Linked DNA regions of Homo sapiens: region 2 is linked to region 1. The links come from fine-mapping of genetic effects on gene expression. A gene starts in region 1. The other region holds a variant in brackets. All regions are shown on one strand. Distances are between the middles of the regions.

What was found.
Region 2: its variant is fine-mapped to the expression of DNAJC6 in whole blood (INTERVAL, PIP 0.98).

The regions. Positions count from the first base shown.
Region 1 is chr1:65,302,577-65,317,813 of GRCh38, forward strand. DNAJC6 (DnaJ heat shock protein family (Hsp40) member C6) reads left to right here and starts at 6,967. Exons shown (of 19, transcript NM_001256864.2): 1 at 6,967-7,362. The coding sequence starts at 7,170. DNAJC6-AS1 (DNAJC6 antisense RNA 1) reads right to left here and starts at 6,658. Exons shown (of 3, transcript XR_007066155.1): 1 at 5,919-6,658; 2 at 3,857-4,009. LOC112268227 (a long non-coding RNA gene) reads left to right here and starts at 8,668. Exons shown (of 2, transcript XR_002958317.2): 1 at 8,668-13,572. RefSeq lists a silencer at 1,019-1,197.
Region 2 is chr1:65,203,974-65,219,210 of GRCh38, forward strand. It overlaps AK4 (adenylate kinase 4), which reads left to right. Exons shown (of 5, transcript NM_013410.4): 3 at 14,781-14,953. Among named protein-coding and RNA genes, the nearest start is that of AK4, 63 kb to the left of the region's middle. RefSeq lists enhancers at 3,485-3,564, 9,554-9,653. The variant G/A (reference allele first, on the strand shown) is at 9,381.

The sequences.
Region 1 (15,237 bases):
GGACTGCGGACTGCAGTGGCGCAATCTCGGCTCACTGCAAGCTCCGCTTCCCGGGTTCACGCCATTCTCCTGCCTCAGCCTCCCGAGTAGCTGGGACTACAGGCGCCCGCCACCGCGCCCGGCTAATTTTTTGTATTTTTAGTAGAGACGGGGTTTCACCTTGTTAGCCAGGATGGTCTCGATCTCCTGACCTCATGATCCACCCGCCTCGGCCTCCCAAAGTGCTGGGATTACAGGCGTGAGCCACCGCGCCCGGCCTGTCTCTTCCTTTCTTATCCTCTCTTGCCTTCCTGCCTTCTATCATGGGATGATGCAGCACGAAGGCCCTCACCAGATGTAGGCTCCTTGATCTTGGACTTTCTGGCCCCAGAAACTGTAAGAAATAAATCTCTGCTCTTTGTGAATTACCCAGTCTCCTGTATTCTATTATAGCAGCACAAAATGAACTAAGGCAAACGTTGTTATACTATGAGCATGTCCTTGAAAAGTCAAGGATAAGTTAAATGTTAGCAAATGGAAATGTGTTTTTTAAGTGAGCTCATTAAAGAAACCAGAGCGATTTTTTCTGTAAACTAAAGATGGCTTCCAAAATAAAGTTTTTTGGTATTTTCATTCAATTAGCAGATACTTACTGAACACCTATTACTTGGCAGGCACTGTGCTAGACCTCATAAAACATGATGGGTGTTGTCTTCACCTGCCAGAGTTGCTCAAAATACGTGAATAATAAATTGACAAATATATTCTCAGACTAATATACGGTCAAATAATAACATTTGTTACATCGGTTATAAAAGTTTTTTAACATATTAACATTTAAGAAATCTTGGGGTATCTTAAGATTGATAGTATGTCATACTTTCTTTAGTAGCATATTTTTCTTATGTTGTGACTTAAAATGGATGGTTTCTTAGATTTGATAACATGCAGTATTTAGGGCTTTAGTGTTTATTATGTGCTTCCATGCGCCTCATTTGATTCTCTCTTCTTTTTTTTTTTTGAGACGGAGTCTCCCTCTGTCACCCAGGCTGGAGTGCAGTGGCATGATCTCGGCTCACTGCAACCTCTGCCTCCCAGGTTCAAGTGATTCTCTTGCCTCAGCCTCCTGAGTAGCTGGAGCTACAGGCACGTGGCACCATGCCCAGCTAATTTTTTGTTTGTTTGTTTGTTTGTTTTTTAGTAGAGACGGGGTTTCACCATGTTGGCCAGGCTGGTCTCGAACTCCCGACCTCAGGTGATCTGCCTGCCTCAGCCTCCCAAAGTGCAATTTCCATAAGTTGCCCAAACCATTTTCCACTGACCACACTTAGTAAGGCAGGTCAGATCTAAGGAATGACCTAAATGTCCTTCAGCTTTCACTTTGATCAGTGGAATTGCCTCTTTAGGCTGCCTCAGTGGCCAAAGCATGATCAGAAAGATGGAGGTTTGAATCCTAACTGATTGTTGTGTAACCCTGGGCCAGTTACTTAACCTCTCCAAGTCTGCCTCAAAATAAGAATAAAATCTTTAGATTTAAGGTAGGTAAGGCACCTGGCAAATGATAAATAATCAATGGCAGTTATTTTGTTACTATTAGAGCATCAAGGAAACACAGGTTTCATGATATTGGGTTATCTTAAAGAAAAAAAAAAAGCCCTACCTGGGAAATTTGTCCTATTTTCTGGAAGACCCAGAACCCCATCAAACACCAAGAACAGATATCCCCACTCCTAAGAAACATTATAGGAATAGTTCAGATTTTCTTCTGTTAAATGTCATCCATCAGCTCACCCGATTTTTTCCAGCAGACCTCCTCTTCTATCTTGTGTGTTGCTTTATATGTCGCTCTTGACAGCTGCTACTATTTATGCATGCATTTCTATAGCAAAACCTTGATTAACTGGGACACAGCAAACTGTAGCACTTAAATGACTATGGTTTTCCCCTATGGACATCATTTGGAGGAGAGAGGGAAGTGACAACTAAAGTTTTGAGAACTGAAGAGAATCATGTAATTCCACATCTTCGATTTTACTGCTGAGAGAAGGAGAATGGATCAAGGCCACCCTGCTGATTAAGAGCAGAGTCAGGAGAGGATTCTCGGTCTATTTTGCTTTCTTCTGGACTGTGGCCTAAAGATGTGTCTTTTGGCATCTCTCTTGGGGGTATTTCTCCTTAAGGTTTTGCCACTACACTGCAGGTCTCAAACTCAAATGCCTGCAAGGGCTAACTGGTAATAGGAATGAGTGGAGGAGGCTGAGTATTCTACATTGGGAAGTAGTAGTGAACTATGGTCCTCAGACTGGAGCCTATATACCCTCTGTAAAGGCATCTAAACTAAAATGTTTTTCATTTTAAGAAGTACAGGACCGACAAAACACATCTGGGAGTCAGAGATGGCTTGATGTTCCCCAGTTGAAGTGCCTTGCACTATGTATATCTATAGGCCTTATTCAATAAGGAGATAATCTGGATTATGGCCCTCAGGCACATTGCCAAAGTAAGTTTCAATACTGTGCATTGATTTATGTTTGTTAAAACAGAAAATTGAAGAGACGCATTTTAGAAACCTGATCATAATATATTTTGTAACAGAGAGAACAGAGTAGAAGCTCTGGCTTCATTTACTGTCTGCTTAGCCAAAACTCTTTGTGGTCCAATTAGCCAAATGAATTCAGATGTCACAGTGTATAGGACATTCATAATTGGGAACACTAGGACCTCTTAGTACCAGAGATTGTCCCATAACATAGACATTCAAAAACATTTATAATCAGGACACACAGTGAGAAATACATTTATATCATTACTGAGCAGAAACATACACACACTCATACATATCACACAAACCCAAAACAATATTTTAAGAAACAATATCTTACTGCGTTCCAAACTCTGATGTTTTCCAACCTATTTCATTTTTATGAAAATACTTTATAATTTACTCATCGGCTACAGCATATAGTTTAAATCACTGGACTAGGTAATGCCATGACATTTTTGTTTATTCATTAATTCAGTAGATATTTACTCAATATCTAATGAGAGCGAGGTGCTCTTTGGAGTGTCATGGGGGACACAAACATGAACAAAACATGGATTTTTGCCCTCAAAGAGTCCAAATCCAATAGGAAATACATACACGTGAATATTTAAAAACTCAGGGCAAAACAATCAGTTCACATTTGACAAACTGCTTTTATGTTATCATAGTCATAATGATAACAAATCTCTTAGGTAAGCTGGGCAGATTTAAACTTAATTTTACAGATGGGAAGTTGCATTTTTGAAAAAGTGACATTTTAAAAAGAAGTGGAATGATAGTAATAATAGATAGCATATGTTAAGCACTTATTATATGTTAGGAACTAATTTACTTCTTACTATAACCTTATTATGATGGCATTACTATAATCCTCACTTTACAGAGGAGAAAAATGAGGCAGAGAGGTTAAGTAACTTGCCCAAAGTCATAGAGCCAGGAGTCATTGGAACTAAGAATCAATCATAGGCAACTTCAATTTTTTTTTTTTTTTTTTTGAGACAGAGTCTCGCTTTGTTGGCTCACTGCAAGCTCCACCTCCTGGGTTCAAGCGATTCTCCTGCCTCAGCCTCCTGAGTAGCTGGGACTACAGGTGCCTGCCACCACGCCTGGTTATTTTTTTGGATTTTTAGTAGATACAGGGTTTCACCGTGTTAGCCAGGATGGTCTCAATCTCCTGACCTCGTGATCCGCCCACCTCAGCCTCCCAAAGTGCCAGGACCACAGGTGTGAGCCACCACACCTGGCTGGCAACTTCAATTTTAATCAATGTATTATATTCTCTGGAAATGAAAATCACAGATCAAAATCCTACATAGGTCATGGCATACATACCTTGATCTCTTAGCCCACCCCAAAAGTGATGTGGCATCTGCTGTGACAGGATAGCATTTGGAATGAGGTGTGTATGAAGGGGATGGGGTGGAATAGAGCCTGGTTCCTCAGTATTCCTCAGTGTCACTAATCTTCATCAAGTTAATAAAGCACCTGAAGGCAGCAAGAGAAAAGACAAAGGGAATGATTGCTGTCCCCAGAAGAGGGCATCTTATCCTTTGCCGTTGTCTCATGTATGATGTAGTATTTTTGAGATAAGTTATGAAGTAGTCTTGAGTTTGGAAAACCAAGAGTTAGGCTGTAAATGTTCACCTTGTGTTTGACCAGTGCCACCTCCCTTAAGCCCAAATTCTCATTCAAAGTTACAAAGACAATTTTCCATTAGGATATCCCTGGAAAAAATAATATTTAGCCTTTATTGAGCTTTTCCCATTTGAAAAACTAAGACTGCCAGGCGCTGAGCTTAAAGCTGCACCCAAGACAGACCAATAATGGTAATAGAGAACAATTGTTAAGTACTACTCTCTCTCTCAATCTGTTTCTCTCTCTCTCTCTCTCTCTCTCTCTCTCTCTCTCTCTCTCTCTCTATATATATATATATATATATATGTTAGGTACTAATCTAATTCTTCTATATAATGATGGTACTCATATTATGCTTGTTTTATAGAGTAGAACAGTGAGATATTCATTGATAAGTATATGAATTTGATCTTTAGCACAGTAAAGAAAATTTTAATGTTGAAATTGGTGCATATCCAAATTTAGGCCCAAGCCCTAGTTTTTAGGCTGTTGTAAATTAACCTAGTTATTGTATTTTCCTGCCTTAATATGCTTCTTATATCTTCAATTTTATAGGATTATTAATAGTTATCCTGATTGACTTTATTTATATTAAGTATAAAGATAAAATTCTTATAGCCCATTCAGATTTTTCTTTACACTTGCAAACTCCAGAGATAGATATTGAAAAATACAAAGGCATATGTCTCATCTATAATTTCTTTCAGCAATATGTCTGCAAGTTGAGCAAAAATAACTGAAAGTGCTCTTTTTGAAAATAATAATTTTCACTTTTCAAAAATGATCCTGTATTTATTTATTTATTTTTTGAGACAGGGTCTCAGTCTGTCACTGAGGCTGGTTCTAAATTCTATTAATCCAATGATTATAGTCCAGCATTTGTCAGGGCACATGATGAACACTAGGTATTTACTGTCCCTGTGTGTCTGTAATGAATTAAAAGAAAAAGTACAGAGAAAGATTATTTAAGATGTTATGGGAAAAGATTTACTAGACTTCACAGAATTATTACTTTAGTCAAGTAACTAAAATAATTCAATCTGACAGATTTGGAAAATTGAAAGTATAAAAATTTGTTTTAAAATTTTTATTGCAGTTTTTCCTGCCACCATTCAGATTGTTTGATCTTGTTATAAATGAGCATTAACTCTGATTTGCAATTCAGGTCACACCATACCTCATCAAAGAATGCAGTTGGGAAAGCAACTGGCCAGGAAGTTTAGGTTTCCCCAGAAGGACTGGAAGGATTTAGAAAACATTTCTTTGGACTTCTTCTGGTTGATGCTCTTCCTACAAGAATCTGTGTTTGGGTGATCCTTGTACAGGAAAATGTCTCTTAGTCCAATTTATTTTATGTAGAACTGTGTAGAGCTAGAGCTTCCCGGAAACTTTCTGAGACCCAAATCATCTGGACTGAAGTCTCTTAGATGCTATTGTTTGATTTTGTGTCCTTAGGTGATTGATATAAGGACAGCAAGAGAAAACCATGTAAGATGAGAAGAAAGCAAAGCTGGCTTTGTGTATGGGCTCAAGTACATTTTACATGCACGTACTTTTTTCCTGTTTTGGTGAGGAAACTCTGTCAAATGACTCTTGACGGGCGCCTCACTTAGTCCCTCCAAGTTTTAGTAGAGAAAATGATAATTTTTAACCAAGACTTACTTGATCTTGACCTAAGATGATGAGAATGAGCAATCCTTCTGAAATCTTATTATTTTAGGTGAAAATAAACATTCGATAATTACATTTTAAGACTTACCAGAGTTTATCCAGGTTTTGTTCAGATCCAGAACTTATACAATGTCGGAGTCTTCTTTTAAGAATACACGATGACAGATACAAAATTAGGTACACAGCTTAATTAACTTCATGATAAATTCTCTTCTGATTATGAGTTACTGCTTTCTTTGGCCAGAATTGTGAAAGAAAAATAAGGCGTGAGGCTAGAGGATGGGGAAAAAAAATCCTTGTCTATCTTGCTTCCCAAGCAGGCCTTCAAGCTAGCTAACTGAAACAGTCTTTTCTCCAGGTCCTAAGGTAAATGGTGGCGGATCTGAAAATGCGTCGGACTTAACCTTGCCCTTCTCCCCAGTTTATTCGCTCAACAAAGAGTTCTAAACAGTCACATCTGCTCTCTAGGCAGAACGGACGCTGCCTCCTAGTATTAGAATACCCAACTCTTTGATATCTCCCTTAGGGATCATCCCTATTCTGGAGAATGTGCAAAATATTGCTCTTCCTTTATATCCTAGCATAGATATATTCTGGCACTTAACATGCATTCTTTTTCTGTTGAATTGAGTTACAAGTCAGTTCTCTAGGACGGTTACCGTCCTGGTGGCTTTGGCGGAATCTTCCGGTGAAAATAGGCTAAGTTGCATGAAATGGGTGTGTCTGGATTTTACCACAAGACCCCTGGTCCTCAAAGCTTCGCAGGCCGAGATACCTCGCCCCTTTCTTCTCTGTCACACGCGTGCGAACACACCCTCCCAACCCACGTCGTAGTAGTCCCCTCCCCCGACCACCCCGCCCCGTTTCCCTTCAACCCCCCTCCTCACGAACCTCCCCTCCCTTCCTACCTCCCTTTCCTTCCCTCCCCGCGGGCCAGCGGCTTTGGCGCTGCCCTGCTGCGCGGCGGGGCGACGCGGCGACACCTATAGGATTGCTTCCGGGCACTCCTCAGCCAGGAGGTGCTGGCCTGGGGCCCGGAGCTCGGCAGGGCCGGGCGGCTCCGCGGCGTTGGCCCAGAGGACGCGCGCCCCCGCCCGGCCGCGTCTCCTTCCCTCCCTCCCTCCTCCCGGCGCCCCGAGCCGAGCTCAGCCCAGGGCGGCGGCTTCGCCTCGCCCGGCGAAGCTTCTCTCCGGTGGCCGCTCCTTCTTTTCCCTCCTCTTTGCGTCATGTCGGGCACTTAATTTTTTTTTTTTTTTAATTCCTTCTTCAGCCCTTTCCACCTTCCATCTCCCTTTTCGCTTCCCAGGTTGATTATTTTCTCTTTTCTCCGGGCTTGCCCATGAGCCTCCTCGGGAGCTACCGGAAAAAGACCAGCAACGATGGTTATGAATCTTTGCAGCTGGTGGACAGTAACGGGGACTTAAGTGCGGGAAGCGGCGGGGTTGGCGGCAAGCAGAGAGTGAACGCCGGGGCAGCGGCGCGGAGTCCCGCCCGACAGCCTCCGGACCGCGCCAGCACCATGGACAGCTCAGGTAGCGCTGCCCGAGGGGAGTGCAGCGCTGAGCCCCGCGCGGCCTCCGGAGCCTCCCAGTCGCCCGGCCCGAGGCCCCCCCGTGGTCCCCCAGCCCCGGTTTGCGAGAGAGCCGGGCTGGAGGCGAAGGCTTCTAATACCACCTGGGTGTCGAGTCTCTAATTTCTCTCATCCAGGGAGCTACGAAACGTTAGATCAGTCCTGAGGCCCAGAGACTGTAGCGAGCTCCTCCTAATCTCTCTAGACTGCTGAATACGGCAGCTGGGGGCGGGGAGGGGGAGGGAAGGAGGAGGGGAGGGGTGGAGAAGAGAGGGGAGCGGGTGGGGCGAAGAACGGCTTGGGAGGAGGGCTGGGAGAGGCAGCTGCTTTCACTGCCCAGCTGGATGAGGGGGAGAGGTGAAGGAGCATGTGCGTTGATTGTTTTTGCAGCATGCAGACGGTATTTATTCCAATTGTTATTCTTGCAATGCTGATGCTATTTGCAATTCTGTAAAGCTCTGCCACATCTTAACTCAGCCGTCTGCTAGGGTTAATGTTACCTTTCTCCTGCAGTTTTTAACCTGGGATCTAGAGCTCTTTTACACAGCTTTTACTGTTTGCACAATGAAATTTATTTCATGTGTTGGCTTTGATCTTGTTTGTCCTTTTGCTTGAGTGTACAGATTTCATAAACCTTTACATGTAGGGACAAGGAAATTCCTCTAAACTTTGTATCGGGGCTTGCAACTGTCTTTTATAAAAGGTTTGGCAAGTTAGAGTCCTCTCTTGGAACTGCTGTTGGCATTTGCGATTTCAATAGCAAAACAGTCATTTAATATATCCATGTTGGACTAGGAGTATTATTATAGCTATTTGCTTACTTCTGCAGGGAACCAGGTTCGGAGAATTGTTTACAGAGATATTTATAATTGAAGTCCTCAGTGGTTGGTTCTACACTGGTAACTTTAATACTGGACAACTGAGGATTCCAGAGGAAAGATTCATATGGGGTCGTTTGAACAGTAATGAAATCAAACTGAATTTAAATGCCCTGCTTTGCAAACAAATGCTTGTTTATTTTAATTGTGTAATGGCTGTCCTTGGGCTATTATTTTCTATTTTCCTTGTCCCAAAGTGGGATGAAATATTGTCCACAGATGCTCAAATGTCCTGGGCTGAAAACAAATTCTACTCATTGAAGCTCTTATTGAAGTTAACCAAGATATTGATGGGACATTCTCTTAGACCATTTTAAATAAAACTAAAATGATCCCCAAGGGATTGATGGTTTCAGGACTGTTTTTTTTTTTTTTTTTTTTTTTTTTTGAGGCGGAGTCTCACTCTGTTGCCCGGGCTGGAGTGCAGGGATGCGAACTCGGCGGACTGCAAACTCCGTTTCCCGGGTTCAAGCGATTCTCCTGCCTCAGCCTCCTGAGTAGCTGGGATTACAGGCACCTGTCACCATGCCCGGCTAATTTTTGTACTTTTAGTAGAGACGGGGTTTTGCCATGTTGGCCGGGCTGGTCTTGAACTCCTGACCTCAGGTGATCTGCCTGCCTCGGCCTCCCAAAGTGCTGGGATTACAGGCATGAGCCACCGCGCCCAGGCAGGACTTTTTTATTGATGTTGTATGTGGTTATTCAATGTATGTTTTTTCAAATCTGTGATATATCAAAGTGTAATCCATCTTTTGACTGGATGTAATCTCCTTTAAATCTTAAAAAGATTCATGTTCTCTGAATGATGCCACCATAATAATGTTTACATGTAGTGAGCATGTAAACAATTGAAATGAAAACAAACATATTCCAAATGAGTGTGAAGGAGCCTCACTTCAGGAAAATGAAAGAAATATGAAATACATATGTTTTCCTTTTTCATAGGGATTATTATTTTAAGAGTTGAAATTGGTTTTTGAAATATGTTACATTGTAGAATAAGTTCAACATACATTTTCTGAGCCCAGCTATGTGCCAAGCACTGTGAGGGAACACAGTAGTGAATGAGATCCTTCTGGCCTCTAGGGGACTCTCAGTGGGGGCAGTAACTATAACACAGAGCAGCCTATGGTAAGTCCTGGATTTTTGAGGATTGTCTTTTTCACTAAATCAGACTTTTTTAATAGGTGGAGAGAAGAATAATGGATTGCTTTAATAATCTGTTGTGATGGGAAAGTGTTTCATTAAGAATATTGTTATCTCTAAAGTGCTATTGCCAGGAGTTGATTCTTAAACTTGATCAAAGTGGTGTTGTGTGAAGAGGCTGCAGGGATTCCTTTTCTCCTCCCCTTATCCATCATTCACTCCTATATTTTATTAGGGGAATATTGTGGCTTTGTTGTAGAAGTACAGGGTATCTTACAATGATTTTGATGCATATTTTCAACTGAGAATGATTTGTTTGGTTTGAATGAAGGATTGGACTCTGAGAGTAGGATTCTTTTACTAGTACAACTATATGTCTTGCCTAATTATAGTTCTTTCTTCTAAGATCCTCAAAGTGTGGCCTGTGCAGTGTAAATATATCCATTTGTTTAGTATATCTAATTAAGTTCATGGATCATTTCTAAAGTGGCAGTAATCTGCCCATTTATTCAACTGATTGTACTGTGACATGCTGGATAGGATCAGTGGTTTATGGGACTTTTGCTCTGATAGAAATATTAATGAGTGGAAAAAATATGTTGACATCTCGCTACATGATTTAAAGCTTAGTCTTAATAATACCTTAAACTTGTAAGACTGTTTATAATAGAACACTTGGACAATTCTCTTATTTCATTTCCCCAGAATTTTATTAAATAGGTTGGGGAAGCAGCATGTGTCTGTGCTTGGAGACTTGGGATCAAACCTCTGCATTATTGTTACTCGCTGAAAAACCTAGTAACCTTTTTCTTTTCTTTTCTAGACAGATAGCTCTGTCACCCAGGCTGGAGTGCAGTGGTGCGATCTCAGCTCATTGCAACCTCCACCTCCCGGGTTCAGACAATTCTTGTGTTTCAGCCCCTCAAGTAGCTGGGATTACAGGCGTGCACCACCACACCCGGCTAATTTTTGTATTTTTAGTAGAGACGGGCTCTTGCCATGTTGGCCAGGCTGGTCTCGGACTCCTGGTCTCAAGTGATCTGCCCGCCTTGACATCCCAAAGTGCTGTGATTACAGGGTCTTGCTCCATTGCCCAGGCTGGAGTGCAGTGGTGTGATCATGGCTCACTGCAGTCTGGACCTCCTGGGCTCAAATGACCCTCCTGCCTCAGCCTCTTGAGTAGCTGGGACTACAGGTATGAACCACCATGCCTGGCTAATTTTTTTTTTTTTTTTCTTTGTAGAGATGGGGTTTTTTGCCATGTTGCCCAGGCTGGTCTCAAACTCCTGGGCTCAAGCGATCTGACCACCTCGGCCTCCCTCCCAAAGTGCTCGGATTACAGACATGAACCACCATGCTTGGCCTGTTCCCATTTATAAAAGTGGAATCATAAGAGCTGTTCTTACCACAGAGCTTTAGTTGAGGCTGAAAACAATATAAAAATACATTTGCAGTTTTTCTTTACTTTGTATCTTGCCCTTTCAATTTATCATATGAAGAAACTTATTCTCAGAGGTGGTAGGAGACCTATCAAAGGTAGAATAGATAATGACAGCCAGACTTAGGTCTTCTGACTCAAAGGTTTGAGTTTTTCCCCATTGAACTAAACTTTTGGGTAGACACAATATCAACTGATTGTTGAAATGGAAACATTTTTATCTACTTTGATTTCCCCCCTGTTTTTAGATAAAAGAGGGGTACATGTTCAGAGGAATGTAATGGCTTTCTAAGTCAACAGCCTCTCAAGTGGTAGATACCAGAGCAGTCTCCTAGCCAGATGTGACTTCCAGAGCTCTCTGCCTTCCCTGGCTCACTTTCTCTTCATTCAAATTATTCTCTAGAAAAGGTTGTCATTTAAAGGTCATCCTGTCATATCTCAAAGGCACTGCACTATCCCAATGCCGAAAACCCCCTATTTCTCTTGTGTGCACCCCACTTTTCAGGGAAAGTAGAACCACAAAAGTAGAACTTTCAATATTGAGCTGCTAAAGTGTTCCAATATTGGGCTTAATTTACCAAGTTCATAATGACAAACTGAAAAAGAGTAGTCCAATTAAAATCTGGAAACAGATATTAATACTTTTTAAAGAATAAGTATAATGATAGGTAAGGATTTCTCTTTTGATTCTCACTTTTTAGGCTTTGTTCTATATATTTAAATATATAGAAATTCACATATATAAATAAACAAAATATTGTATATATTAAAAAAAAAGAATAAGGATAATGAACAATGCTAAAATACCATGTAGTGTGAGTCTGGTTGGAAACAAAAATTACCTTTAACAAATTCTATTTTAGTTAGTGTTTAAACACAGCATCCACATTTTGAACCAGGTTTCAACATTATGAGATACGTGTTTGGATAATTGTATACTTCATGGAAGTATAATAAACATATATGTACTAATAATCCTTTCTTAAGAATATCTGCCCATTGAAGGGTCTTGTAGGTTGGAGGCAAAGTTTATTTATATAACTTATTTTTTATTTTTTTTTTATTTTTTGAGACGGAGTCTCACTCTGTTGCCCAGGCTGGAGTGCAGTGGTGTGATCCCGGCTCACTGCAACCTCTTCCTCCTAGTTCAAGCAATTCCCCTGCCTCAGCCTCCTGAGTAACTGGGATTACAGGCACCCACCACCAGCCAGGCTAATTTTTGTACTTTTAGAAAAGACGGAGTTTCGCCATGTTGGCCAGGTTGGTCTTGGACTCCTGACCTCAGGTGATCCGCCTGCCTCAGCCTCCCAAAGTGCTGGGATTACAGGCGTGAGCCACTGTGCCCAGCCAATTTATATAACTTATTTAATGTGTGGTTATAGTTTGGATGTTTCTGGATAATCGTTTAAAGATGCACCAGTTACTGGATTACAGAATAAGATACGTCAATTTAAGTTTCAAATTTCAAATGCTTGGAGACTGCCAGATTTCATAGATTTGGAAGGGGAATCCCTGGAACCAAATCTCGGAAAGTTGGCCAGGTAGCCAATGGTGGACACTTTCTGTGATGGAGCTTTAGCTACTGGGGCAGTGTCTTTGAACTGTTCTCATCAGTGCAGAGTTCTTTTTATTTGGGCAAAATCAGCCTTTCTGTTCTCTAGATACAAATTATGTCTAATCCTTCTTTCACATGGTAGCCCTTAGACAACAGATTTTTGAGAACAGGTACTAATTCTCTCTTAGTCTTAATTTTCCTCTTTTCTAGGCCAATCAAACCTAAGTTCCACATGCTTTTTTCTCTATATAAAATGATTTCCATATAATTATCCTAAGCTTTGAGAATAATGTTTTTTTTTTTTATTATTTTGCACAACAGGGGTTTTCACCAATTTTTATTATAAAAGGTTAAAAAAGAATTAAAGATTACAGAAAGGAATAAAATGAGAAAAGTTAAGTATTCTCTCCCCTCCCTGATCATTTAGGTCCTTGCCTCAGAGATAACTTCTACTAAAAGTTTCTGGAAGGACTTTCAACGTACAACATGAGTGTGTGTAAATATATATGCTTTACACATATATGTATATGTATGTGTATACCATTAGAATTATAATAAAATACAAATTCAAAGTTTAACCATGTTCATATATGTACATTGTTCAATAATGCTTAATGACAAAAATAGCTACAATTTAATTATTATAATTCAGGGATTATGCTAAACACTGCATATGGTGTCACATTTAACCCTCATAAGAATCCTATAAGGTAAATGATAGTAACGGTCATCTTATAGTTGAATAAACTAAGGCACAGAGAGGTTAAGTTGCGTGAGGTTACACAGGCTCTACTTATTCTATATTGAGTAAAATGCCATAGAGAAATGCCCATACGATTGCAAATGAAGAATTTAGTGGTGAATTTTTTTATTTGCTTCTTTCTCTGAGGCAAGGAAAAATAGGAGTGATTGAGAGAACCAAAATGAGTTCAGTTGTTTTTTAATCCCATGAAAGTACAAATATGTTTTCTTTACTTAAATATAAAGAATTTAAAAACACTGGAAATGAAAACAGCAAAAACAGCATTGAATAAAGCTGATTAAGACTTGATACGGCACTGAGAGAACAATACAATTGATGAAGCATTATATATTTTTGGAAAAATATATTGCAAATGAAAATGGATCCCCACTGCTCTTAGGATAAAATCCAAGGTATTCTTAACAGGACATCAGAAGCCCTTTGTGGCACCTGTGAAAGCTGGCCCAACAAAACTTGTTGTCGCTCCACTGGTAGATCCCCTCCCCAGCCTGCACCTCCATCTTTATGTTTTTGCATACACTGTTCTCTCAACTCAGGCCAACTTATCCCATAGACCCCTGGACACCCACTTTTCCAGGTTATCTCCTATTCATTCTTCAGGGTTTAGCTCAGATATTCCTTAATCGCAGGCTGCATGCAATGGTCATTCTCCATGCTCCTCAGCAGCCTTTACTTCCGTATCACAGCTCTCATCACATTGAGTTGTGACATGCTGCCTGGCCTGTCTCTCCCTCTAGTCTGTAAGTAAAGTTCAGAGCAAGGCTGGGTCTTATTTGCCTTTGTAGTCTTGTCATTGCTTGGCATTTATTAGGAGCCTGATAAATACTTGTTGGATGCACAAAAGCATGAATGGATTTTGAATTTTTAAAAGGGCATTTATAATGAAATATGCCCATCCAAATCTAAAAATAAGCATACAGCTAGGTTTTAACAGAAATGAGGCCAGGTTTGAGAGAAATGTAACTGTTGGTCGAAAGCTAGACCAATTCAGTAATGAGCATTTTTTCATATGTAAAGACACTGGAAGTGAAAGAAAGATGGTTAATATATAGCCTAGATCCTTAACAGTTTTCTAATATAGACATGTCAAGAAAGAATTAGCTTACCAAAAGATTGTGCTTTTTCGACCAACAAATACAATCTACTGTATGATTCATCATAAAGGTCACTTTTTTTTTTTTAGCCAAAAAAGGAAACTCAAAATGTATACAATTTTTTTAATGAACTGACAATAGATGACTTTCATCTATAGATCTGTGTATTTCTTAATCGGTGTCATTAAGTTTTAATCTTAGCCATTTTCAGGTTTAATATTAAAAGTTCTTTGTATCATCTTTGGCCGTCTGCAGTTGTATATAAGCTTTGTGCTAACTTAACTGCTTTTTTAAATCTGTGCTCACCATCTTGAACTCCTTTTGGAAAAAAGCTATGTTTGAGATGGATGAAGAATGCTGGAGTTTAGATTGTGCATTTCCTTGTTGCGAAAGGTGTAACTCTGAAAAAACTAAATTACAGTTATTGTATATTAAACAGCTATTCCTGAAATTTACTTGGAAGCTTTTGAAAGAGTAGCTCAGTATCTGAGGAGAAGTTCTTCACGGTCCAAGAAATTAGGAAGTTCCATAACATGTGCCAAGGGATCTGGCAATTTCTACTACCTTTAGTTGCTTTATCCCACATGTCACAGGCCATAGTCTAGATGCAAAAAATATCTTTTTATTTCAATAACACATCAGAACATAGTTTTAAAAGTGCTAGAGATAGAAACTTTAAATTAAAATTAAAATGCGTGTAGTATTAACAGCGCAAATGTCACCACCAAGGAAGCAACCAGATGAGCCAATGCCTCCTGTGCAGTGTTAAGTTTGCATGTGCAGAAAATTACTGTTGTTGTATTGTGGTGTAGTACTCTACCTGGTAGCTGGCAAGTGTGTTTGGCATACATTGTAAGCCACTTCCTAATTTTAGAAGTGTTATGCTGTGAAAAAAGTGCAATTAGAATTGGAGATATTTGACAAAAGTCAGGGTGAATAAATAGTATAATAATAGTTATATAA
Region 2 (15,237 bases), 99 kb before region 1:
ATTTAATTTTATCTTTTTCTGTAATACATGATCACTATAAAACATCCAAGCCATATGGAAAAATGCAACGGAAAGCAACAAATCACCTGAAATTCCACCAGCCAGAAACAACCAGGGTGAACAGTTGAAAAGCATCATTCTAGATACCTCTCTGTGCGCATATGTAGATGGAAATGTGTAAGAAGGCATCAGACTTTATATGCTTTAAAAAAGTATTTAATCTTACTGAATTTTTTTTTTTTTTTGACATGGAGTCTCGCTGTGTCGCCCAGGCTGGAGTGCAGTGGCACAATCTCTGCTAACTGCAACCTCCACCTCCTGGGTTCAAGCGATTCTCCTGCCTCAGCCTCCCAAGTAGTGGGATTACAGGCACGCACCACCGTGACTGGCTAATTTTTTACATTTTTGATAGAGACAGGGTTTCACCATATTGGGCAGGCTGGTCTCAAACTACTGACCTCAAGTGACCCACCCGCTTTGGCCTCCCAAAGTGCTGGAATTCCAGGCGTGAGCCACCATACCTAGCCTTAATTTTACTCAAATTTAACAGTAACAAAACTAAAGTGAACCTGAAGGAGTTATTACGGAGCTTCAGATAAATCTTTGTTCATCACCAAGGATATTAATTCCTGTGAGAGCTCTTCAACATTATAAAAGCCACTGGGAGACTGACATATTTGTTTTCTTTTGTTTTAAATTCACATTTCAAATTTAGACAGGAGGCATTGTCTCCACAGTGAACCCTGAGGGAACTTATACTTCCTTTAACCTCCTCTTACCCTTCATCTCTCCCAGTTTTTGTTGGCTTTTGTCATTAAAAATTTATTACAGTTTTCTTCTGCAAATGTAATTCCTCAGTTTCTTACATTAAAAAAATTTAGGTGAATTCTGTGCACTGGTTCTTTTACCCACCTCTACTCATTTTATTTTGATTAATCTCTTGGTTATATCTCTGTGAATATACTAGAAATCATTGAAATGTACACTTTAAATGAATTAATTGTATGGTACGTGAACTGTATCTGAGTAAAGGTGCACTGCTGTTTAACACAGCTTTTTCATTCAACACTGGGTTGACTGGATTTTGCTGGATATTTTTTTCGTCCCTCCCTCCTCTCCCCTCCCTGCAGAAGAGCTCATAATATGTTTGAGAATGTCTAATTTTTTAAAATTAGCTAACTGATATTTTTGAGTTGTTCTTGTGTCTTTCAAAACATTGCAACCATTGTTACATTTTCTTCTGGCCTGGTTCCCCATTTTATTTTATTTTTATTTGTTAAATAGAGACAGGTCTTGCTCTGGCACCCAGGCAAGAGTGCGATGGTGCAGTCGTGTTAATAGCTTGCTGCACTCTCAAACTCCTGGATCCTCCCGCCTCAGCCTCCCAAGTAGCTAGGACTACAGGTGTATGCTGCTGTGCCCAGCTAGTTTTTTATTTTTTGTTTAGACAGGGTCTTGCTATGTTGCCCAGGCTGGTCTTGAACTCTTAGGCTCAAGCAATCTTCCTGCCTCAGCTCTCCAAAGTACTTGGATTTACAGGCGTGAGCCACTATGCACAGCCCTTTTCCACCTGTTTCAAGGTGATTTTTTTTCACCCCGTATAGACTTTCTAAAGAGTTATTTCTTCATACTTGAAGTCAGTAGAATAACTTGATGTTGTTGTTATTTATTTATGTCCTATATAGAGTGTATCCTCCTGATCTGCAATTCAGTTCTTTCCTTTCAGGGAAGTTTTCCTGTGTTATATCCTTTTTGTCATTTGTTCAGATTTCTATTTCAATAATACTAGTTATATTGGATATTCTATTGACTATTTTTTGTCTTTATACTTTAAATTTTTCTTGCTTCTGTGTTTCCTTCTACTTTCAGGCACACTCATATCTTTTATTTTGAGGGCAGGAGAGAATGAAACTTTGTTTATATTCCATAACTGTTTGATTATTTTTCAACCTGTATGTGCCATGCACCTGTGCTGTGGGCCCTTGCACTTACTGTTCCCTCTACCGGCAGTGCCCTGTCTCCAGATATCCGTGTGGATCGCTGGATACAGATCCCTACACAGATAACCCTTCCTCAGAAGGTCTGTCTTGTACCATTCTGTCTACCTACGTCACTCTCCTTACATTATTATAATGTGACATTATGTATTTATGAGCATATTCGATTTTCCATTCCTCCCCTATCCCTCCACCCCCAGTGCAGGCCCCAGAAAGCACAGGTTATATCCATTTTGTTCATGGCTATATTGCCAGTACCTATAACAGTGCTTGGCATATAGTAAAGACTTGTACATCCAGTTGCAGACAGGTCATGCCTGCAATCTGTAGCTGAGCCTTTAGAAGGTATACTTGAATTCTGTTACTTTTCTGGGGATAAAAATATGGGCCTATGGTGAAATCATTTACAAATTTCTTTAGTCTTAATTGAGATACAGTGGGACCGGTTTTCCCCTAATTTGTGTATGGGGACTTATATTCAAAGAACAAGCAAGCAGGCCGGACGCGGTGGCTTGTGCCTATAATCCCAGCACTTTGAGAGGCCAAAGAGGAGAATCACTTGAGTCCAGCCTGGTTAACAAAGCCAGACCCCATCTGCGTGTGCGTGTGTGCACGTGCGTGCGCACACACACAAACACACACACACAAAACCAATGTCCAGGTGTGGCGATGTTTGCTTGTAGTCCAGCTACTTGGGTGGGGGGTGGCTGAGGCAAGAGGAACCCTTAAGCCCAGGAGTTAGAGATTGCAGTGAGCTATGATCGCATCACTGCCCTCCTTCCTGGGTGACAGCGAGACCCTGTCTCAAACAAAACAAAAGAAACAAACCACGCAGAATTCTTAAACAGAAGAGGCTTTAAGCAAGGGGTTTGTAGATGACAGCTCCTTCCTCAATGGAATATGCATTTTCCCTTATGGGAAAAGGGCTCAGTGATTTTAGTATAACTTACTTAAGAACAAGGGTTATAAGGTAACAGTTTTATCTGTGTCTTTATTCAGGAAAAATCCTCGCGATGATCCCAGAGGATCTCAGTGAAGCCATTTGGGAATTTCCCCAAGAATTCCTACCTGAAAGGAATTTATCTTTTATTTCCCTAAGCCTCTTTGAAGATGCACACTTGTGGTTTAAAACCAAATTTTCTGGAGTACTTATCTTCTGCTTATCAGTGGATCACCAAGTAGTGATTGTAGCATATCTAGGTTTTTAAAGTCTTTTTCTTTTTCTTTCTTTTCCTTCCTCCTCCCTTCCTCCCTACCTCCCTTCTTGCCTCTATCTTGCCCTGTCACCCACGCTGGAGTGCAGTGGCACGATCACAGCTCACTGCATCCTCAGTCCCTTGGGCACAAGAAGTCCTCCCATCTCAGCTTTGGGGTCTTTTTCTATTAACCTATAAGCTTCCTGAGGGCAGGACCCACTTATTTCAAATCTCTTAAACCCTGGGATCTATAACTAGTGTCCCAGGAAGCTGCCATGAGCAGGAAGTGGGTTCTAGAGCTCTCAGCACTGTGGGGAGTGTGGGGCTCACAGAGTGGTAGGAGGAAGCATAAACTTCAGTTGCTGACATCTGGAGCACAGCTGCTGTTTTTTTTTTTTTTTTCCTTCTACTTTCATTTTAGGTTTAGGGGATACATGTGCAGGTTCGTTACACGGGTAAATTTCGTGTACAGATGATCCTGTCACCAAGGTAGCGTAGTACCTGATAGGTAGCTTTCCAACCTGCACCCTGGTCCTGGTTCAAGCAGTCCCTGTTGTCTGCTGTGCCCACCTTTGTGCCCATGTGTATTCAATGATTAGCTACCCCTTATAAGTGAGAACACATGGTATTTGGTTTTCTGGTCTTGAGTTAGTTCTCTTAGGCTAATGGCCTCCAGCTGCATCCATGTTGCTACAAGGGACATGATCTCATTCTTATTACGGCTGCATAGTATTCCATGGTATATGGAATATATACCACATTTCTTTATCCAGTCCATCATTGATGGGTATCTTGGATGATTCCATGTTTTTGCTATGGTGAATAGTACTGTGATGAACATACAAGTACATGTGTCTTTTTGGTAGAACAATTTATTTTCCTTTGGGTGTATACCCAATAATAGTTTTGCTGATAGTCGTAAGTTCTTTGGGAAATCTCCACAGTGCTTTCCACAGTGGCTGCACTAATTTACATTCCCACTAGCAGTGTGTAAGTGTTCCTGTTTCTCTGCAACCTTGCTGGCATTTGTTGTTTTTTTACTTTTTCGTAGTAGGACAGCTGCTGCTTCTTTTCACCATCTGTTAATAATAACTGGATGACATGGAATATGGAGGTCTTTGATACATGTACAAATAAACATTGTGTAAACAGATAAGGAAAGTATACGATAGGAGAGAGAAAAGGCCTTTATGAAGCAGGTTTTGGTGGTAATTAATTTGCTACTAAGGCTTCCAGTTGGTGATGTGAGTGATTTGAACTCCTGGGCTAGGGAAGGCTGTGGAAGAATAACCAACCACCTGCTTTCAACTTTAAGCTAATCATCAGTGATTGATTGTCATGAACAATGGCTTGCATTTGTAACTTGGTTCTTACTTATTCAACAACTGGGAAGAGATGGGCGGTCCGAAGCAACTATGTTAGCTCCAGATCTTAATGGAGGTAGGAAGGGGGCTGATGTCGCATAGCCTTTTCACAAGCTGCCAAACCCAGGCGGATGTTGGAAGTTGCCCTTCTGAACTGCCCTTTCATTTCCATCAGGCGGAGGGCTTGCTTTGCTGCCTGGGAACGTGGTGGTGGACTCTGGCTCTGCACCCTTCCTGCAGAGTGAATGCGCTCCAAATTAGAAAAACAGAAGTGTCCTACTTTCTATTCCCCACCACTGCCTCAGCTTGTTGCCGCAGCACCTCCTGCTTCAGCTGCCCTTCCTTGGGTTCTTGGCATGGCTGGGAGGAGCAGGTGCCAAGGCCCAGTGGCCAGCACTGCTGGGAACACAATACCAGTCAGGAATTTAATGATATCTCACTGCACTTAGTAAATATTTTGTGGGGGGGGTCTTAAAAAAAACAACCTGTAGATGTCATAATTAGTGATATAACAAGACAGATTCTGGAAGAAATTTAAAAATATAAAATTTCAGCTTTCAATCTGGATTGGCTGTTTGAATGAAAAGAGTGAGCAGCTTTTCTAGGCTTGGTTAGGGGATGAGGGATAGCGATAGTCTGGTGTGGAAGCATGATAAAGCATGCGGTGGAACAGACCCTCTGAGGAGCTAAAGGGAGGAAAGCAAGCAGTCCATGCTTAAACATGATCTTTATTTTACGTTAGCTCTTGGCATTTCTACTTCTTCAACAATTAATGGAATATATTCACATTTGGAATGGGCTAATTAAGGAACCTAGAATAACGCTAGTCAGTCATTTAGAAAGCCTTTCTTGGAGTGTTACTTTTAGTAAATGTAAAAGCATACTTCAACTTGTAATTCTCTCTAAATGGAAAAATTATAAATGCTGCCACCTGTTGACAAAATTTGAGGGTGCATTCTACTCCAGTTGGTCAGTGATCCCTGCCGACAGGGGATCTTACTGGCTGGATAATGACCCTCAGCTAAAAATGCTTTAAAATGTGCTGGTCTGACTGTACCTTATCTGACATTCTGTTCTTGGCGGCTGATTGGTGTGAGAAGTACACCTGAATTGCTTTGATTTGTTTAGCCCAACTTGAGACACAGATGTAGATCAATTTAAAGAATGCTGAAGCTCCCATGCTACCTTATAGAATCCATCATTTAAGACACCATTTCATATTGTATGCCCTGAAGCCTTAAAGTGGATCTGTGGCTGAAAAGTATGTTTTTCTTTTTCTTTTTTTTCTTTTTTTGAGATAAGAGTCTTGCTCTGTCACCCAGGCTGGAGTGCAGTGGCATGAACATGGCTCACTGCAGCCTTGGCCTCCTGGACTCAAGCGATCCTCCTGCCTCAGCCTCCTGAGTAGCTGGGACTAAAGGCATATACCACCATGCCTGGCTAATTTTAAATTATTTTGTAGAGACAGGATCTCACTTTGTTGCCCAGGCTGGTCTCAAAATCCTGGGCTCAAGTGAAATCCTCTCAAAATGCTGGGACTGTAGGTGTTGACCATTCTTCTCGGCTGAGTATCCATATTTTAAAAGTCTTGTAGATGAATAAATACTACTACTTACTTGGTAGAGCACTTGCCCTTATGTCTAACCAGAGTGAGAGAGAGCCCCTTTTCAGGACCTGTGACACAGCACCCCAAACTTTGGAGGCAGCCTTAGCCTATCCCCAGGGCCTCTGTGACCATTGCTGGGTCTAGGACACCACACTCGCCCTGAAAGTGGCACTCTTTGAGGCCAGTCACTTCCAACTCTGCCTTTCATTTCTGAGAGGAAGGTAAGCCATCCTCCTGTTCTCCTTTCTTTTATATCCGCTTCGGTTTCTTTATTATTGATTCCCCTCCTCACCGTACCCTCTGGAATCCTTTTTCCTTAACAGTTTCCCCCACCCTCCTCGCCACATACACATGCTATTTGCAGAAGTCTCCACTTTCTGTATTAAAGAAAACCTAGATTTCCCCTTAGGATGCTACTTTCTTTCTTGTCTTTTCTGTTACCGAGGACTTTCTCCTATGTGAAAATCTCATGTTGGGTGATGGTGGTGGTGGTATTATTATTCTGTCTCCTAGTGTGTCTTTCATCCTTTTCTAAAAGCTCAAATCTATCTTTATCCTTCATATCTTTCTTCTCAAACCTGCTGTTTGTCTTTTTACCTCCAGTCCCACATTGCCTTCATTTTTTCCCAGTACCGTCCGCCCCCTGCCATGCAATTTATCCTGAGCCAGCCACTATTCTGGAATTTACATATAGTAATTTGCTTATTTCTCACAATGACTTTATGAATTAGGTATTACTATTTTCATAGGCACAGAGAGGTTAAGCAACCAGGGTCACAAGTAAGTGGCTTAGCTGGACCTCAAACATAGGCAGCTTGCCTCTGGATCTATATTCCTGTGAATCAACTTTTCCTTAGTCATGTGTTTCAGGTCATGTGCAAAGATGCTCATTGCAGTATGACTGGAAACAACTTGGATGTCCACCATTAGGGGATTGGTTAAATTATGCTCTATCTAAACCATGCTGTACTCTGCAGTTATTAAAGAGAATGATTCCCAGCACTTTGGGAAGCTGAGGCAACAGGATTGTTTGAGGCCAGGAGTTCAAGACCAGCCTAGGGCACAAACCAAGACCCTGTCTCTGCAGAAGAGAATGAGACAGTAATATGTAATATGAAGAAAAAAATCTCCAAAGAGAAAAAGCAAGATGCAGAACATTTGTTGTGTGTATGTGGGGAGAAAATCTGGTCTGTGCGTGTAGCACTGGATCAGGCGGTTCCTGAAGCCATACAAGATTTAGATTTCTCAAGTCGTTTTGTAAGCTGCCTGTCAGAGACATCAGGATCAGGCATTTCTCCCTGTCTGAGAATTTGCTTCTCACAGTCTGCAGTTTTCTGTTCAGGAGGAAGACAGCATGGTGTGGTACATGGCGTGTGATTGTAGAGACAAATAGCACTTGATTTAAAGCTAGATTAGTCACTTATCATGTGATCTTGAGCAAGTCACTTCACTTTTCCCAGCATTGGTTTTTACAGTTTTAAAATGGGGATAAGGCCTACCTGACAGAATTATTGTTACTTTTGAGATAATATTTACTCATTCAACAAATATTTTCATTCGGCACTTACTGTGTGCAAAGCACGCTTACAGCACTAAGGTTATAGCAGTAAACAAGAACTTAAAATGTTCTACTCTAATTTAGTTTACTTCTGGTAGGAATAGAAACACTTAAAAAATAAGGTAAATCATATATGGCAAATGGTGATGAATATTCTGAAGGAAAACAAAAAGAAAATAAAGGGTGAATAGGAGTGTTGGCGTGTGGTAGAGGTGCAGTTTAACAGGACAGTTAGAAAAGTCTTAACAAGGCACCACTGGAGCCAAGATTTGGAAGAGCTGAGGATACACATGGGTATCTGGAGCAAAAGCAGAGGGAATATGAACTGTGAATGTCCAGGGTGGGCACCTGCTTGAGAGCTGCAAGGATGCCGGTATGGCTGGCACGGAGACGTGGACAGAGAAATGAGGTGAGAGAGGTGGCAGGACAGGGGCCCAGATGGGTAGGCCTTTGCAAGCCTGTACAATTTTGGCTTTTCCTCTGCATGTAATATATCTGGCACATAAGGGATGCTCTACAAATGGTAACTGTGTTATAAGGATGCCACCATGATGCCCTGCTTTTTAGGTAGGTAGAAGAAAGATAGACAGGGTAACATTTTAGGATTCTTTTTTTTTTTTGAGACAGGGTTTCCCTGTGTCTCCCAGGCTGGAATTCAGTGGCGCGATCTCAGTGCACTGCAACCTCTGCCTCCTGGGCTCAGGTGATCTTCCCACCTTAATCTCCCAAAGTGCTGGGATGAGCCACTGTGCTCAGCCTAGGATCCACCCATGCTCACCCACCCAACTTTTTATTTTATTTTATTTTATTTTGAGACAGGATCTTGGTCTGTCACCTAGGCTGTAGTGCAGTGGCACAGTCACAGCTCACTGCAGCCTCAACCTGCTGGGCTTATGCAATCCTTCTACCTCAGCCTCCCAAGTAGCTGGGACTACAGACGGGCACTACCACGCCCACCTAATTTTTGTACTTTTTGTAGAGATGAGGTCTCACTATGTTGCCCAGGCTGGAGGATTCTTTTTAACAATTACTTTTTATATGCCTGATACAGCAGCATCGTTGCATAGAAAGAGAGAACACTTTAGCAGAAATCTAAGGACCAGATGTCATATGCATTGTGCTGTTGGCTTTCACTGAATCCAAGCTTAATTAAACTGAGGCTAATAACTTCTCTATCCACCTCATAGGGTTAATGAGAAGAGTAAGAGGTAAGTAAATTTATAGAAATGCTTTGTGAACAGTTTAGTATATGTGAAGCATAAAGGCTATGTTTGCTGAGTTGCAGACTTGGAAGCCATGTAGTCCAGCTCCTTCCAAGGCACAGTTGTCTTGTCTTTGTGAATGCTTCTAGAAAAGGGCACTCACTACAGAAAATACCACAAAGCTGCCACTTTTCTTGATTTGGATCCTTAGTTACAGTTAACACAGCCTGCACGTGCACTAGTTCCTTGGAAGTTATACCATGTTGCTACCTCAAGGTACACTTGTATTATCAACAGCTTAAGAGTGAGTCTTTGTGTTGAATTTATCCATCTGTAACCCAAATGAAACCTCACCGTGATAAGGTATTGAACCAGATCAGGAAAGTAGATTAAGGAGCTTTACTATTAAAGAGTCAGGTAGGTGATGAAAGGGGCAAACTGAAAACCAGTGGAAGGA[G/A]GCTTATGGAAGTAGTGGCTGTGTTGTGCCCAGGTTCTGTGCTGTGCTGGGGTTGAGCTCCCTGTGACTCATGACTACCTGTGCTGAGCTGTAACTGCCACAGAGAGCACCAGGGACTCCCCAAGCTCTTAGAAAAAACCCAGAAAAGGAATTAAATGTGGGTGGATGAGGGCCTTTCTTTCCTGCTGCTGCGTTTTTATTGAATTGGGAAATGAGCTGAGCTCCTAGGTGAGCTCTACCAAGAGCAGCAGCAACCGTTTATTAATCAGCACACTCTCCATGTGCCCAGCACTTTGCATCTTATACATTTGACAGGGATTGTCACTTTTAATCCTCAAACTGCCCTGTGCAGTAGGCATTACCCTTTGTCATGGGCTGAGTTGTGGGTGTGTCCTCTGACCCCGAATTCCTGTGTTGAAGCCCTAACTGCCCCCCCAGTACCTCAGATTGTGACTATATTTAGAGAGAAGGTCTGTAAAGAGGTGATTAACTTCAAATGAGGTCATTAGGGTGGGCCCCAATCCAATCTGACTGGCGTCCTTATAAGAAAAGGACATTTGGACGTGGATACATAGAGTGAAGACCATGTGAAGGCAGCAGGAGAGACAGCCATCTATGAATCAATTAGAGGCCTCTGAAGGAGCAAACCCTGCTGATACCTTGGTCTTGGACTTATAGCTTCCAGGATTGTTTAAGCCACCCAGTCTGTGGCAGCCCTAGCAAACTAATGTGCCCTCATTTTTGTTGTTGTTGTTGTTTGTTTGTTTGTTTGTTTTGAGATGGAGTCCCTCTCTGTTGCCCAGGCTGGAGTGTAGTGGCACGATCTCGGCTCACTACAACTTCCACCTCCGGGTTCAAGTGATTCTCCTGCCTCAGCCTCCTGAGTAGCTGAGATTACAGGCGTGGGCCACCATGCCTGGCTTATTTTTGTATTTTTAGTAGAGATGGGGTTTTGCCATGTTGGCCAGGCTGGTCTTGAACTCCTGACCGCAAGTGATCCACCCGTCTTGGCCTCCCAGAGTGCTAGGATTACAGGCGTGAGCCACTGTGCCCGGCCCCTTGTTTCATATCTGATGAAACTAAGGATCTGAGAGTAGATGAAACTAAGGATCTGAGAGTATATGAAACTTGCCAAAGTTCTCACAGTTACGGCTAGGTAAAGTCCCGGGATTAAATCCAGGTGCGTCTGATTACAGGTAGAGATAAATCTAGGCATTAAATCCAGGTGTGTCTGTTCCCAAAGCTTGTGCTTATACCTAATGTGTTATTGAGTCCTGAATGTGTCTACCTTAAGGCTATTTCTCCTCACTTTTGAAATAGTGAGTGGCACCCAGATCTTTGACTTATTTCTGGTCCATTGTTCTTACTAATATACCATGCTTGCCTCCCCTGCCACCACTTTCCTTAGAGGTAAGATACTGCACAAGTACATGAGAGCCTCTGGAGAAGAATGTCACAAACAGGTGACTAAGTTAGGGAGTTCGTAAATCTGGAAAGATTTGCATGTGTTTGGGACTTTCCTTCCCAGCTCACTTCTGATGAAGTGAGATAGAGGCGACTTGTTCTTCAAAGTGGTTTGTTACCTACTTAGAAGTAGAGTTAAGCCTGACAGAAAAATGGGGCAGATAAGTGTTTAGTGTCATACTTGCACTGTTGCTGTCACTGAGAAGTTTGGTGGTTCGTCATGAATCGGGGTAAATATTAGAAATACCCAAGTCCTGCTCTCACTCCTAGATGTTCTACTCTAGGAAAGTCTGGGACAGGATCTGAGCATCCATCATCATTGATTTTTTTTCTTTTCTTTTCTTTTCTTTCTTTCTTTCTTTTTTTTTTGTTTGAGGCGGAGTCTTGCTCTGTCACCAGGCTGGAGTGCAGTGGCACGATCTCTACTCACTGCAATCTCCGCCTCCCGGGTTTCATTGATTCTCCTGCCTTAGCCTCCTGATTAGCTGGGATTACAGGCGCCTGCCACCATGCCCGGCTAATTTTTATATTTTTAGTAGAGATGGGGTTTCACCAAGTTGGCCAGGATGGTCTTGATCTCTTGATCTCAGGTCATTCACCCGCCTCGGCCTCCCAAAGTGCTGGGATTACAGGCGTGAGCCACCATGTCCGACCCTGATTTTTTCTTTTGAGTCTTCCTTGGTGATTTTGATGTGCTCATCAAATGGAGAACCCTTGAAGTTGTGGAATGGTTTATTTCTATAGTTGTTCCTTCTAAACCAGCTTTAGGTACCTGTTGCTTGTAGTCTAAATCACTGGAATTAATTATCATCTGTGGTCTTTAGCAGGTCTGAATGTGAGAGTCCAGTAGGTAGCAGGTGCTATCCAACATGTTTTTGAAATTTTTCTTGCTGAGTTCAGCCTATTTTGTACACTTTGCATTTTACTCCTCCAGAGGGCTCTAGAGCTCAGCTGAGCAGACTGGCTTGTTACCCTCATTAGACAAAGAAACTAGCCAATAAGATTTGAGCTTTTATTTGTTGGAGGAACTAATGTTATGTTATCTTTTAGAGCTTCCTGTTCTTTTCTTTTCTAGTGCTTCCCCCGCTCCCAGCTCTCAACCTCTATCCGATATAAAGACTGTTTTCTTGTCAAGGTCACAGTTAGTGATGCTAGAACACAAGGCAGAGACTGTGGCTAAGCTTTCAGGTCTTAGAAGAGGGATCTCTAAAATTCTTTGTTTACATTTATCAGTGAGAAGGTTGAATTTACATCTTCAATATATGGATAATTATGTATAAATTATTTATTTACCCATGCAGTTTCACTAATGTGATTGCAGTGCTTTTTTTTTTTTAGACAGTCTTACTCTGTCACCCAGGCTGGAGTGCAGTGGTACAATCTCAGCTCACTGTAACCTCTGCCTCCCAGGTTCAAGCAATTCTCGTACCTCAGCCTCCCTAGTGGCTGGGATTACAGGCATGCGCCACCAGGCCCAGCTAATTTTTGTATTTTTAGTAGACATGGAGTTTTGCCAGGCTGGTCTCGAACTCCTAGCCTCAAGTGATCCACCGGCCTGGGCTTCCCAAAGTGCTGGGATTACAGGCATGAGCCATCATGCCCGGCCACTAATACGACATTCTTTTAAAAGAATGAGCCAAGCCCTCCCTGCCTCCCGCTTCCCCAAAGTTCAAATATTTTCTTTCTGTACTTCAGTGAAGATAACTTTGGAAGCCACTGCTTTAGAAAATGCTTTTCATTGATGTGGCAGAGGTTTGCGGGGAAAGAGTTTATAGATGATCTTGAGGTTGTTTGGGCTGTAGGTACCTTTCTTTTTTTTTCTTTTTTCTTTCTTTCTCTTTCTCTCTGTCTTCCTTTTCTTTCTTTTCTTCTTTTTTTTTTCTTTTTGAGACAGGAGCTCACTATCTCACTCTGTCACCCAGGCTGGAGTGCAGTAGTGTGATTGTAGCTCACTGCAGCCTTGAACTCCTTGGGCTCAAGTAATCCTCCCACCTCAGCTTCCCAAGTACCTGTAACTACAGGCATGCATCACCAGTAAAAGCAATTTTTTAATTTTTATTTTTGGTAGAGATGGGTTCTCTCTACATTGCCCAGGCTGGCCTTGAATTCCTGGCCTCAAGTGATCCCACTGCCTCGGCCTCCTAAAGTGTTGAGATTACAGGTGTGAGCGACTGTGCCTGGCCTTGCAGGCAACTTTTTATTCCAATTGCCATCTTGACATTGTAGTGAAGAGTGAGTTGTCCAGGGAAAGGCAGAACCTGACAGTCATTGAGAGGGGACTTTATGTGGATGGCTCACAGGCAGTAAGGAAGGCTTTGGAGGAAGCATTGGAGAGTTAGCAAGCAATAGGTACCTGAAGCAGTGGCGTGGGTGGATTTTGTCACATTCAACTCAGTGAGCACTCAAATCAGCTTGGCATTCACACAGACTTAGGGGTTTCAATGCAGTGCTGCATATTCATGTTTGAGCCACCAACTTCCTGCAGTAAGGAAAGGAATTCTTTGAATTGTAAGTGCTACAGGGCCATGAATACCCATTTTTAAGTTGTCATCTTGATACTTCCAATTTTGAAAGGGTAGAGATGGGCTGGTATCCTTATCTGAATGGATTTAAAGTTTCTCTTCTGGATGTTGCATCTTTTATTATACTTTCAGCTCTTCATCTACCTGGTTCTTTAACTAGGATATAAAGACATTTTTTTAGAAAATGATAGTAGATCCAGCAAGATTTTTGTCAGAGCAGATAAACTGGAGTGATTTGTTTAGGAAAAAGTTACCACTGTGTAGCCCCACCAGAGCCAAACCTGGAGTTACATTTAAACAGGTCAATCTCTGAAGAAAAGTGTAATTTGGGGTCATATGACCTAACTCCTGAGGTCACCCAGAGCTTATACTTAAATCAGAAAAGGAAGAGATGCCCATGAGCCCAAATTTTAATTTTGTTATTTCCACACATTTAGAAAAGTAGGAAGAATAAGTTTTGCATTATCCCAATAGATTTAAAAACTCTAGTTCCTTTTAAAATCTTTAAATAGACTTAAAACAATTTCAAATTTTTTCCAGCTTTATCGCGGTATACTTGACAAGTAAGTGTATATATTTAAGGTGTACAATGTGATGCTTTGATACATACAGTGTGAAATGATTACCACAGTTAGGTTTAATAATTAACATATCCATCATCTCACATAGGTATGATTTCTTATGTGTGTGGCGAGAATCCTGAAAATCAACTCTGAGCACATTTCAAGTGTACAATACAGTATTTATGATAGTCACCATGCTGTTAATCAGATTGCCTACCTTGGTTAAAGTGCAGACTCAGGTGAAGGTCTGGATGGAGGATCATACTTTAATTGATTTAGACTCTAAAATAAATGTATATAGTTATTTTTGCTAACCTAAGAACCTACTCATAAATGGCTAGTGTTAAAATGATGTAAGATAAAATGCTTTCCCTTCACTTTTTTAACAGAAGTGGAAATGGAGGTGATGTAACTTGCCTGAGGTGACACAGGTAGTTAAGAGCAGAGAAAGGACTAGAGCCAGGACTGGTTTAGTGATTTTTAGTTTAGCGCATTTTAAATTTTTATCATATGATTCCTTAATCTTTGAGTCTTCCAAATGCAGAAGCTAGGTTATAGAATAGCATATTTTATTTTAATATTACATTTATGGAGGTAGATATTCTTGGTTAAAGCTCATTTTTAAAAAATAATTTCAACTTTTAGATTCAGAGGATACATGTGCAGGTTTGTGACATGGATTTATTATGTGGTGCTAAGGTTTGGGATGCAAATGATCCCATCACCCAGATAGTGTAAAGCTCCTTTTAGAATGGTATATGCAGATTTAATTCTGTCACTGAAAATGTTTCAAGAACTAATTGGAACTGGGCAATAGCTTGCATTTCACTTGTTTTGTTCTTTGCATTTAGGTTTTCCTAGGACATTAGGACAAGCCGAAGCCCTGGACAAAATCTGTGAAGTGGATCTAGTGATCAGTTTGAATATTCCATTTGAAACACTTAAAGATCGTCTCAGCCGCCGTTGGATTCACCCTCCTAGCGGAAGGGTATATAACCTGGACTTCAATCCACCTCATGTACATGTAAGAATATACAAAGTGCTTTCACAACCTGACAAGAAAAAGACAAACAATTTCCATTGAAAAGTGGAGAAAAGGATATGAGTAGACCATTCAAAAAAGAACAAATCTACATGACCAAAAAACATTTTTTAAATGTTCAAATGTAGTTGTCAGGGAAGGGACATTTAAGTATTTAAATAGGATATCACTTTGGATCTATTGGACTGGCAAAATCAAAATATAAAAATTTTTAATTTTATATTTATTACTGATAAATATATGTATACAATGTATATAATTATATT